3 linked regions of the Homo sapiens genome follow. The protein of the gene in region 1 interacts with the protein of each later gene in a pairwise test. Each region holds a gene or a part of one and is shown on either strand. Other genes may lie near its edges.

Region 1 (3,654 bases):
TGAAGTGGGAAAAAAAGCAAACAAGTTGCAGAGTAAGGTATATTATAAGGTTCCTTTTTTTATTTTTAGAGACAGGGCCTCCTTCTGTCCCCAAAGCTGGAGTGTTGTGGTGTGAGCATAGCTCACTGCAGCCTCAAACTCCTGAGCTCAAGCCATCCTCCTGCCTCAGCCTCCCGAGTAGCTGGGACTACAGGTGTGTACCACCACATTCAGCTAATTTTTGTACTTTTTTTTTTTTTTTTTTTGTAGAGACCAGGGTCTCTCTATGTTGCTCAGGCTGTTGTTAAACTCCTGGTCTTAAGCAATCCTCCCAATTCAGCCTCCCAAATTGCTGGAATTACAGGCATGAGGCACTGCACCTGGTCTGATTCCTTTAAAAAGAAAAAATAATGAAAGAAAAAAATCCTATTGATTTAACAAACAATCATGAAATAAATGGACTGCTTAAAAGAAAAATAAAAGAGTAGAAGGATGTACACAAATACTTGCAAGTTATCTAAGTTTGGATTTCTGAAAGGAGCACCAATCAGCTAAATATTTGCTTCTTAAAATTTTACTTGCTTTTGTCTGGGAAGAGCATAATTTTTTTTTTTTTTTTTTTTTTTTGAGACACTGTCACCCAGGCTGGAGTGCAATGGCATGATCTCGGCTCACTGCAACCTCCATCTCCCAGGCTCAAGCAATTCTCCTGCCTCAGCCTCCCGAGTAGCTGGGATTACAGGCGTGTGCCACCATGCCCGGCTAATTTTTGTATTTTTTTTAGAGATGGGGTTTCACCATGTTGGCCAAGCTGGTCTCGAACTCCTGACCTCAGGTAATCTGCACGCCTTGGCCTCCCAAAGTGCTGGGATTACAGGCATGAGCCACCATGCCCTGCTGGGAGAGCATAATTTTATAGAAAGTCTCTTTTTCTGGATTGCTATGGGGCTGTTTACCATTTGAACTAAGTATAAAGGGGTCATTTCAGTAAGATTTTTACCAATGTTCACCTGGAGATACGTGACATATGACGGAGACAGAGAGAATATTTCCATAGCACCAGTGTGTTGACATTGGTTCATTCTTTGATTCATACATTTATTCAGTAAGTATTTAACGAGCTCTTCCAATATGCTGCAGCGTGAGACTATGCCAGGTCTCCTAGAGATGGAGAGGAAAATAGGACCTGGCTGTCATGCCACTCACTCTGGCACAGATGGACAGGTACATAAGTACTTGTGTAGGGTACAGCATGTGTATAATTCATGAGCCAATGTCAATAAAACCATGTCCAGAGGGCCATGGATTCAGAATCCTAGAAGCAGGATCGCTAATTTTCCTAGATATTGCCAGACACCCTCTGTGGTGTACCATTTTTACCAGCAATGAGTGAGAGCACAGAGGGAATCTTTTTAGTATCATTGAAGTAAAACAGATGCTGCTTTGTCAAGAGTATAAACATTCTTCTGGCAGAAAATGTTAAAGTAGTCATAGACGTATTATTTTATAGACAGGGTAATTGGATGGAAGCAATGGTGATATATATTAGGAGGAAGAGTGACAGATGACTTGTAGACCCAATAAAGTGCTGAAGGACCTTCTGTCTATGCAGAAGACCTTGACGTATGAAGGGCCTCCTCCCTCTCCTTTGTAGAGCAGGAGGGCAGTCTGCTTCTCAGTCTGTCAGTCATTTGTGCCTTGAGCACAGAATGAGCACAGTGTCTATAAACAGTTTGTACATGCTTAAACAGATTGTGTAATTTTTTCCAGCAAATTGAAAGATAAAATATTTGACTGGTCTGATGGGTATCTTCTTTCCATTTATTTTCTTTCCCCTAATTTTACTAATGCATTCTTTCACTGGTTCTATCACTCAGGTAGGTACAAAATACAGCCTTAACTTGCGATTTGGGAGTGAGACTGAGATGGAAAGAATAGATTTGGGATGGAAGGCACCAAAAAGTGGGGTAAGGTTGAATATTTCTTCAGTTCTCATCCTCCCTGATTTTTATTGGCTTTTAGCCTTCATTTGGGAGCTTTCTTTTCTTAGCTTTCATGAAATATAACCTCCCAGCTCTCCACTGACTTCTTTTTTAAATTTTATTTTTAATTGACAAGTTAAATTATGTATATTTATGGTGTACAACATGATGTTTTGCTTACTTGCTTCTCAAATCCCAGCCTGCCTGCCTGCCTTCCTTCCTTCCTTCCTTCCTTCCTTCCTTCCTTCCTTCCTTCCTTCCTTCCTTTCTTTTTCTTTCTTTCTTTCTTTCTTTCTTTCTTTCTTTCTTTCTTTCTTTCTTTCTTTCTTTCTCTCTCTCTCTCTCTCTCTCTCTCTACATGCACCATGGGCTCTTCTTCCTCTCCCTGGTTTAGAGCAAAGGAGGCTTTACAATATATAAAATATTAACTATCAGTTAATGTAACTAAGTGCTTTTCCCTAAATAAATTTAGACCAAAAATATATATGGAAAATACAAAAACACAGTATATTATGGCCGGGCGTGGTGGCTCATGCACTTTAGGAGGCCGAGGCGGGTGGATCACCTGAGGTTAGGAGTTCGAGACAGCCTGGCCAACATGGTGAAATCCCATCTCTACTAAAAATACAAAAATTACCTGGGTGTGGTGGTGGGCATCTGTAATCCCAGCTACTCAGGAGGCTGAGGCAGGAGAATCACTTGAACCCAGGAGGTGGAGGTTGCAGTGAGCCGAGATTGCGCCACTGCACTCCAGCCTGGGCGACAGAGTGGGACTCCATTTCAAAAAACAAAACAAAACAAAACCCCAAAAAATCTGCAACAAATTACAAATGTGTGAAGCAGTAACTTAGTTCATATAATGTAATAACAATATAGTAATTGTCTTAGTCCATTTTGTGCTGCTGTACAGGATACCTGAGACTGGTTAATGTATAGAGAAGAGAAATTATTCCCTTACATTCTGGAGGCTGGGAAGTCTAAGATGAAGGTGCTGGCATCTATTGTCTGGTGAGGTCCTTCTTGCTCCTCACGTGGTGGAAGAGAGAAGGGCAAAAAGGAACAAACTTCCTTGGTGGAGTCCTCTTAAAATAGCATTAATTCATTCATGAAGGTGGATTCATTGTGACCTAAACACCTCCCAGAAAGCTCCACCTCTCAATACTGTTGTCTTAGGGATTTGATTTCCAACCTATGAATTTTGGAGGACACATTCAGACCATAGCAGTAATCACGATACACAGTTTTTGAGGACTTCAAACCAAGTACTCTTCCCCCTCTGTCACAGACATTATGTACTTAAAAGTTCTTAAGAACCATTGCGCTTAAAATGTGTTAGCCTTTTGACTTAGAAACAATTAACCTCAATAATAACAGAGATAAACAAACCAGTTTTCCAGTAGAAATCATTCTGGATTTGTTGAACAAAGACCACAACTTCCTTCTGATGGTCTCAGTTGTTTTCCTGGTAAAGCTATGTAGCATGGCTGTTGGTTTTGGTTTGGTTCGTCCGGCTCACAAACCCACATTTCACTTTCCAAGGTGGCCAGAGACAACCCCAGTAATGACACAGATAAACAGACTGATTGTCTTTAGAAATCTTTCCAGGTTTGTTCACCAAAGACTGGATGTCCCACTATCACCTTACTTAACACAACCCCTCTAACTGATGCTAAGTGACTCAGCTTTTTTGTAT
Region 2 (3,654 bases), on another chromosome or scaffold:
GTTTCACCATGTTGGCCAGGCTGGTCTCAAACTCCTGACCTCAAGTGATCCACCCATCTTGGTCTCCCAAAGTGCTGGGATTACAGGTGTGAGCCACCATGCCCAGCCAATCCTGTAATTTTTAAGTCATGGGTACAGGGGGAGTTTTTTAAGGGCAAGACTGAACACATATGTATACTCTTCATACAGAAACAGCTGATGGAGTGGGATGAGCTCTTATTACACCATGCTGAAATCTGTGGCTCTGCCAGGTGCCATAGCTTTTCATTCACAGTAGTGATGAAAAATAGAACCCAGTTTCAGAAATGTCTCTGGAAGCGTCGGAAGACTGTTTCACTGGCCCTCTTCCTTTGCTCCTAAGACAGGAGTCAGTTTCAGAGAACGCAATTTATTCATCCTCTGACTCCTCTACCTCTGGAATCTCTTTGTCAGCCTTCTTTGCTTAACTGTCACATCTCCTTGTCCTGACTCACAGCTGGTTTTTGAATACTTTTGATAGTATCATTTAAGTCTCATAGTTTGATCAGTATAAGATCTTTGGAATACTTTTGTTTTTCTTTTGTCTTTCACTTGATACAAAATAAGTCAGATTACAAGAGGACAGTGGTTGGCTTAAATAACATTGGTCACCAACTGTATCTAAAATGTGTTTTTTAGTTAATTAAAAATACTACTAGAGCACATAATTCTGGTATGAAGCATATCTGAAGGAAAATGCTTTTTTAAAGATAGCTTCATTGAGATATAATTTGCATACCATATAATTCAGCCATTTAAAATATGCAGTTCAGTGTTTTTAGTATTTTCACAGAATTATGCTACCATCATCACAATCCAATTTGAGAATATTTTTATCACTGCCATACCCATTAGCAGTCACTCCCCATTACTCCTTCCCCTAGCCCTAGGCAGCCACTAATGTACTTTCTGTCTGTATCTATTTCATACACATGGAATCTTATAGGAAAGTGTTTTTTTGAGACAGAACCTTGCTCTGTCGCCCAGGCTGGAGTGCAGTGGCGTGATCTCGGCTCACTGCAACCTCTGCCTCCCAGGTTCAAGCAATTCTCCTTTCTCAGCCTCCTAAGTAGCTGGGACTGCAGGTGCATGCCACCACGCCCAGATAATTTTTGTATTTTTAGTAGAGATGGGGTTTCACCATATTGGTCAGGCTGGTCTCGAATTCCTGACCTCAGGTGATCCACCCACCTCAGCCTCCCAAAGTGCTGGTATTACAGGCGTGAGCCACTGTGCCCAGCCGGAAAGTGTGTTTTAAACTCATTTTATCCCTGACTGTAAGAAGGGTGGGCTGCTGTCACTGATTTTCTTAAAAGGTCTCCATAGTTATGTTAAAGAAAAACTTTAGATAAATTAGCAATTTGAGCAAACCAAGAAGAGGTTCGGAGAGCTTCACCCAGCAGCATGAGCAGCTGTAGGCTGAACACAAGGCAAAGACAAGAAATTTTTAGATTGTCTGTAGCTATATGTTTGTCTTATTTGTGCATGGTCTCATCAGTTGGCTGCTTGGGATTGGCTAAAGCTTAGCCGTTTGTGATTGACTAAAATTCAGCTATTTATTAAAAAATATAACCCTAGGTTTCAGTTCGTTTACGTAAGTTAGGTTCCGGGGGGTGGGTTGGGGTCACACAGGAACTCAGAGTAGGGAGATAGCCTCAGGTTAATGGCTTCCTGCTTATTTACTTTAGCAGTTGAAGTGATCCATGAGCTTTACAGTTTCTATAGTGAAAATAGGGATAAATTGCCATTTCTGTAAGGTATGTAGGGAAATATTGTTTGTAAAGGCTTTACTATTGTTGAGTGTATTTTTTTTTTTTTTTTTGAGTTGGAGTTTCACTCTTGTCGCCCAGGCTGGAGTGCAATGGCACAGTCTCGGCTCACTGCAACCTCTGCCTCCCGGGTTCAAGCGATTCTCCTGCCTCAGCTTCCCGAATAGCTGGGATTATAGCCGCCTGCCACGACTCCCAGCTAATTTTTTGTATTTTTAGTAGAGACAGGGTTTCACCATGTTGGCCAAGCTGGTCTTGAAGTCCTGATCTCAGACGATCTACCCACCTTGGCCTCCCAAAGTGTTGGGATTACAGGCATGAACCACCGCTCCCAGCCAATTGTATCTTAATATTTAAAGAACTAGTAAATATTGATAAATTTCTTGATTGTGAATTTCATCTTTCTATTTCAACAGCATTACTCATTTAAATATACTTTTCTTTTTTTTTTAAGATGGAGTTTCGCCCTGTCGTCCAGGCTAGAGTGCAGTGGTATAGTCTTGGCCCACGGCAACCTCTGCCTCCTGGGTTCAAGTGATTCTCCTGTCTCAATCTCCCAAGTAGCTGGGATTACAGCCATCCACCACCACACTTGGCTAATTTTGTATTTTTAGTAGAGACAGGGTTTCCCCATGTTGGCCAGGCTGGTCTCAAACTCCTGACCTCAAGTGATCTACCCGCCTCGGCCCCCCAAAGTGCTGGGATTACAAGCGTGAGTCACCACACCCAGCCTAAATATACTTTTCTATTTGTAAAGTGAATATGACTTTATTTCAGAGAGCATTTCTAGGCCATGTTTCAAATCTTTTACTGTACAGATTTGCTTGAACTATTAATATTCATAGTAATAGCTAACTTTTATATATTACTTTATAGGCTAGATACTGTTCTAAGCACTATATAGAGTCACTCATCTAATTCTTACACTCTGGAGTAGGTGCTATTACAATGCCCGTTTTACAGGTGAGGAAATGAAGATATGCTGAGGTTAAATAATTTGCCCAAGGTCATACAGTTAGTCATTGGTATAGATAGGATTCAAACCTGGGTCTGGCTCAAACTTGGAGCTCTTAACCATGCTGCTGTATTGTTTGCTATGATATCAAGAGCTCAGAATTGAACCAGTTTCTTCATCTTCTCCAGTATTTTTTAAATCAACATTTGTAGTTTTACAAAAGTTAATAATCCACAAAAATTTAAGTAGTTTCCATTTTGTTTCTTTTCTTTTCCTATAAAGATAGTAACCATTTCCTCCAGGATAGATTCAGTGAAAGAGAATGATAAATTCTAACTGTGTTATTTATATCTGACATATTTGCATGATAAAACTCCTGGATTGAGAGCCAGGCATTGTGGTGTGTGCCTGTAGTCCCATCCACTTGGGACGCTGAGGCAGGAGGATCACTTGAGCCCAGGAGTTTGGGCTGTAGTTTGCTATGATTGTGCCTGTCAGTAGCTGCTGCACTCCAGTCTGGGCAATATAGTGAGGCCCCATTTCTTTAAAAACAAACACAAAAAACCTCTTGAATTCATGAAAGAAAATAAATTAACAGACTGTTTAAAAGTCAAGAATTTATTTTGTATGTTTTTACGATTTTGCATTTCAGTGTTGGCCATAGGAGGCAAAGGAGCAAGTTACTGCTTCCTCAGCAGTTTTGATGTAGCTAGAACCAGCAATTACTTTGACTAAAAGAAAACTTTGTAAGTTCATTGACTTTTATCCAGAGTAAGAGCAGTCCTTTGCTTTGGGGGAATTAAATTGGCATTTTCTTCTTTCAGTTTCATTATAGATGTCTTACAGTTAATGAATAATAGCAGTATGTTGTAATATACAAAATGTATCATTATGAATGGCACTGATACTTTA
Region 3 (3,754 bases), on another chromosome or scaffold:
ACCAAGGCATTTGGCGTTTTTTGTGTGCCTAGTAATGTTGTTTGCCGAGTGTATTAGTCAGGGTTCTCTAGAGGGACAGAACTAATAGGGGATGGAGATATATTTCTGAGTTTATTAAGTATTAACTCACACGATCACAAGGTCCCACAATAGGCTGTCTGCAAGCTAAGGATCGAGGAGAGCCAGTCCAAGTTCCCCGACTGAAGAACTTGGAGTCCCATATTCAAGGACAGGAAGCATCCAGCATGGGAGAAAGATAGGCTGAAAGTCTAGGCCAGTCTCGTCTTTTCACGTTTTTCTGCCTGCTTTATATTCTAACCGTGCTGGCGGCTGATTAGATGGTGCCTAGCTAGATTAAGGGTGGGTCTACCTTTCCCAGCCCACTGATTCAAATGTTAATCTCCTTTGGCAACACCCTCACAGACACACCCGGGATCAATACTTTGCATCCTGCAATCCAATCAAGTTGACAGTAAGTATTAACCATCACACCAAGCTTTTGCTGGAGCCTCTTGATGACAATTTTGATTGAGTCAGAAGGATGAATTTCGCAGAGATGTTGGTTATATTAACAACTCATTGCACAGATGGAGGACCTGAGGTCCACATCCAGCTACAAATTTCTGCCTGCCTCCTGCCTCCAGGCTGATCTGGGGACGTGTTGGCCTCTCAGCATTATTGCCCATGCCCTAGTCTGGTAGAAGAGTGGTTTAAAAGTGTGACTGTTTTATTCTTCATAAGAATCAGGCTGCCTTGGTTGAAATTGTGGCCCCATCACTTTGCAACTTTGTGGCCTCTGGCAAGCTATGGCACTTCACTGACCCATATATGTGATGGAGATAATGATACGGTTATTACAGGAGCACACTTGATGATAGGTGTAAAGCACTCAGTACAATGCCTGTTTGTAGGAAGCATCTAATAAATTCTAGTTGCCAGTATAACTAAGCACTTGCCCTATTTTTCAAATGCTATTTTAGCCAGATCAAATAGGTAGGAAAAAGCCTGTCAATCATGAAGTTTATACTTTCCTGTTTCTAAAAAGGTACACTTCTAAAAATTTATATAATTCATTTATAGCTATTAACTTAAACTTGGAAAGTTTGGATATTTGGTCTGTCTTCACAAGTGTTTATCTGAGCCCTACCTCTCAAATTAACATGTATCACCATTGATGTGCATTATGTTGATTCTTATACCTATTATATGCATGTGTGAAACTAAGCCCCATAAAAACAGAATTTAGGCATTCCTGCTGAAAGGAAGTGAATTGAAGGGAAGAGAAGCAGAGCCTTTGCAAAGAGAAAATTGTCCTATCTCTCAACCAGTGTCAGAATGTGGAAATGTTTACAAAATGCTCATTAAAAGAAATAGGGATTGCAAGATAGAAACAAATTCTGGTGCACAAGTTTACACTAGGGAGATAAGAAAGGCTAGGCCCCTATAGGGGATTTTGTTATCCAATTACTGCAACCTGACTTTTAGGGGGAGAGGAAGAGTGGTAGGGGGAGGGAGAGAGAGAGGAAGAGTTTCCAAACTTGTCTCCAGTGACAGGAGACATTTACGTTCCACAAGATAAAACTGCCACTTAGAGCCCAGGGAAGCTAAACCTTCCTGGCTTGGCCTAGGAGCTCGAGCGGAGTCATGGGCTCTCTGGTCCTGACACTGTGCGCTCTTTTCTGCCTGGCAGCTTACTTGGTTTCTGGCAGCCCCATCATGAACCTAGAGCAGTCTCCTCTGGAAGAAGATATGTCCCTCTTTGGTGATGTTTTCTCAGAGCAAGACGGTGTCGACTTTAACACACTGCTCCAGAGCATGAAGGATGAGTTTCTTAAGACACTAAACCTCTCTGACATCCCCACGCAGGATTCAGCCAAGGTGGACCCACCAGAGTACATGTTGGAACTCTACAACAAATTTGCAACAGATCGGACCTCCATGCCCTCTGCCAACATCATTAGGAGTTTCAAGAATGAAGGTAAGTTTTTGCTGATGAAATTTTGCTAGGATTTTTTTCAAGACACAATAAGTAAATTTACAATGCATGGGAATGATATAGGTAAGGGTAAATACATCTATATAAGGATGTTAAATACATATGGATACACAAAAACAAGGCACATTTTGTTCTATACCAATTATATAGTCATTTCAGGAACCTCGAAAAATACTTACAAACATCTTTTAATCCAAAGCCACAAAACATCTATCAATTTGACATCATAATTGGGTCCTTTTAAAAAATGTTAATTTGAACACCAAGTAATACAAAGAATTAATGTTGGTCTACTGCCGTACCTTTGTCATTTTCCAAATAGGCCTTGATTGCCATATGGGCTTTTAATTAACTAAAAAATTTCTCAACTTCTACTTAGAATAAAAAGGGTAAAAACAGTCAAAAAACATCAAATTGTGATTTGTGTTTTGTTCAAACTTTTGATAAGTTTTTATTTTGTGACCTTATTTAAGAAATGTTCAAACAGGATGGAAATATATTTTAAAGATTCTTCCTAAGGCTGTGTTGTTTGATGTGTCATGTACATCCTTAAAGCACTGTTTACAGTTTCCAGGAAGTGTAGATGGCCCATTAATCATCCAGCTCATCATTTCCGTCTTTATAAAGAGCAACGTACAAGCTTTGAATTATTGGTGGGAAAAGTGTGTTTTCTTCTCTTAGGTCTTTAAATTTGGTAACTAAATCTAATGAGCTAGCAAGTTAATGTTTTTGTTTGTTTGTTTGTTTGTTTGTTTTTTGGTTAATATGGTCCTAGTAGGAAAAAAAACCCCTGATATCTAGATATCTATAGTAGAAGCTGAAGGTCCAAAGGAACTAATTTAATTTTTGCCAGTTATGCTTTTATAGTCACTAACCAGGTATAAAAGAAGCTTCCCGTTAATATTGGCCAGATGTTCTTGAAAGAAGAAAGGTAATAGTGAAGAAATAGCTCAGGATTTGGGATTTTGAGAGCTAGTTGGCTTAGTGGTTGTGAATAATTAGCTGATGCCTCAGAGCCTCAATTTCCTCATCTATAAAGTGGGAGTAATAATACCTACATAACATAGTTGAGTGACTCAAAGGAGGTTACAGATAAGAAAGCACTCCATTTACTATGAAGTGCTGATCAAACTTTAGTGACTACTAATGAGTTACTTAATATTCTAGGTACTGGAATAAATGTTGAGTAGGTATTCCTTAGTCCCTAAGATATTATCTCCCTTTAAAATTGAGTTGGCTGCCAAAATTTATAATTCATAATATCTTTCTCATGGAAATGGCAAGTTGAGATTACAGATTGCTTTTGGAGGTGAGTCTGAATTGAAAATGAACAACTTCCTCCTGTAAGAACCCTCCCTAATACTTCTCAGCACTGAGCCCTAAGTGTCTGGCTCAGGGTGTGGGTGAGAAAATGTTGTTTGCATCCCCTGGAAAACTAGAAACGTTTTCCGTTCTCACTTCTCTCATAGAGTATCTGGATGATCCAGGTCAGGATGTGGAGTTTACTGTGCTTATTATTACTGGAGATTATTGAGGGCAGGAACACATCTCTTAGTAAACAACCCAGCCGCCAGCACCTCTGCCAGTCTGCAGGAAATGTGCAGCCTGAGGACAGAAATCGCACAGGACATGCCCTGTTGGCTACTATTGCCTCTCTTCTGACTCTTTGGATCTGCTTAGTGCAGCTCCCTAGGAGAGAAAGACCAAAAAAACTCCAAACCTACCCCATCTTGGGAAAAAAAAGTGCCACCTCCAAGG

Evidence for each region.
Region 2: the proteins of SLC10A6 (region 1) and TMEM50B interact in binary tests that used the Homo sapiens proteins (3 or more experiments, as listed by UniProt).
Region 3: the proteins of SLC10A6 (region 1) and BMP10 interact in binary tests that used the Homo sapiens proteins (3 or more experiments, as listed by UniProt).

Annotation. Positions count from the first base shown.
Region 1 is NC_000004.12:86,835,865-86,839,518, reverse strand, and holds part of SLC10A6 (sodium-dependent organic anion transporter), read left to right. Parts: intron 1-3,654. UniProt on the Homo sapiens protein: Transports sulfoconjugated steroid hormones from the extracellular compartment into the cytosol in a sodium-dependent manner without hydrolysis.
Region 2 is NC_000021.9:33,455,838-33,459,491, reverse strand, and holds part of TMEM50B (transmembrane protein 50B), read left to right. Parts: intron 1-3,394; coding exon of another isoform or gene 3,395-3,477; exon of another isoform or gene 3,478-3,488; intron 3,489-3,654.
Region 3 is NC_000002.12:68,869,249-68,873,002, reverse strand, and holds the start of BMP10 (bone morphogenetic protein 10 preproprotein), read left to right. Parts: upstream 1-1,605; 5' UTR 1,606-1,644; coding exon 1,645-1,978; intron 1,979-3,754. UniProt on the Homo sapiens protein: Required for maintaining the proliferative activity of embryonic cardiomyocytes by preventing premature activation of the negative cell cycle regulator CDKN1C/p57KIP and maintaining the required expression levels of cardiogenic factors such as MEF2C and NKX2-5.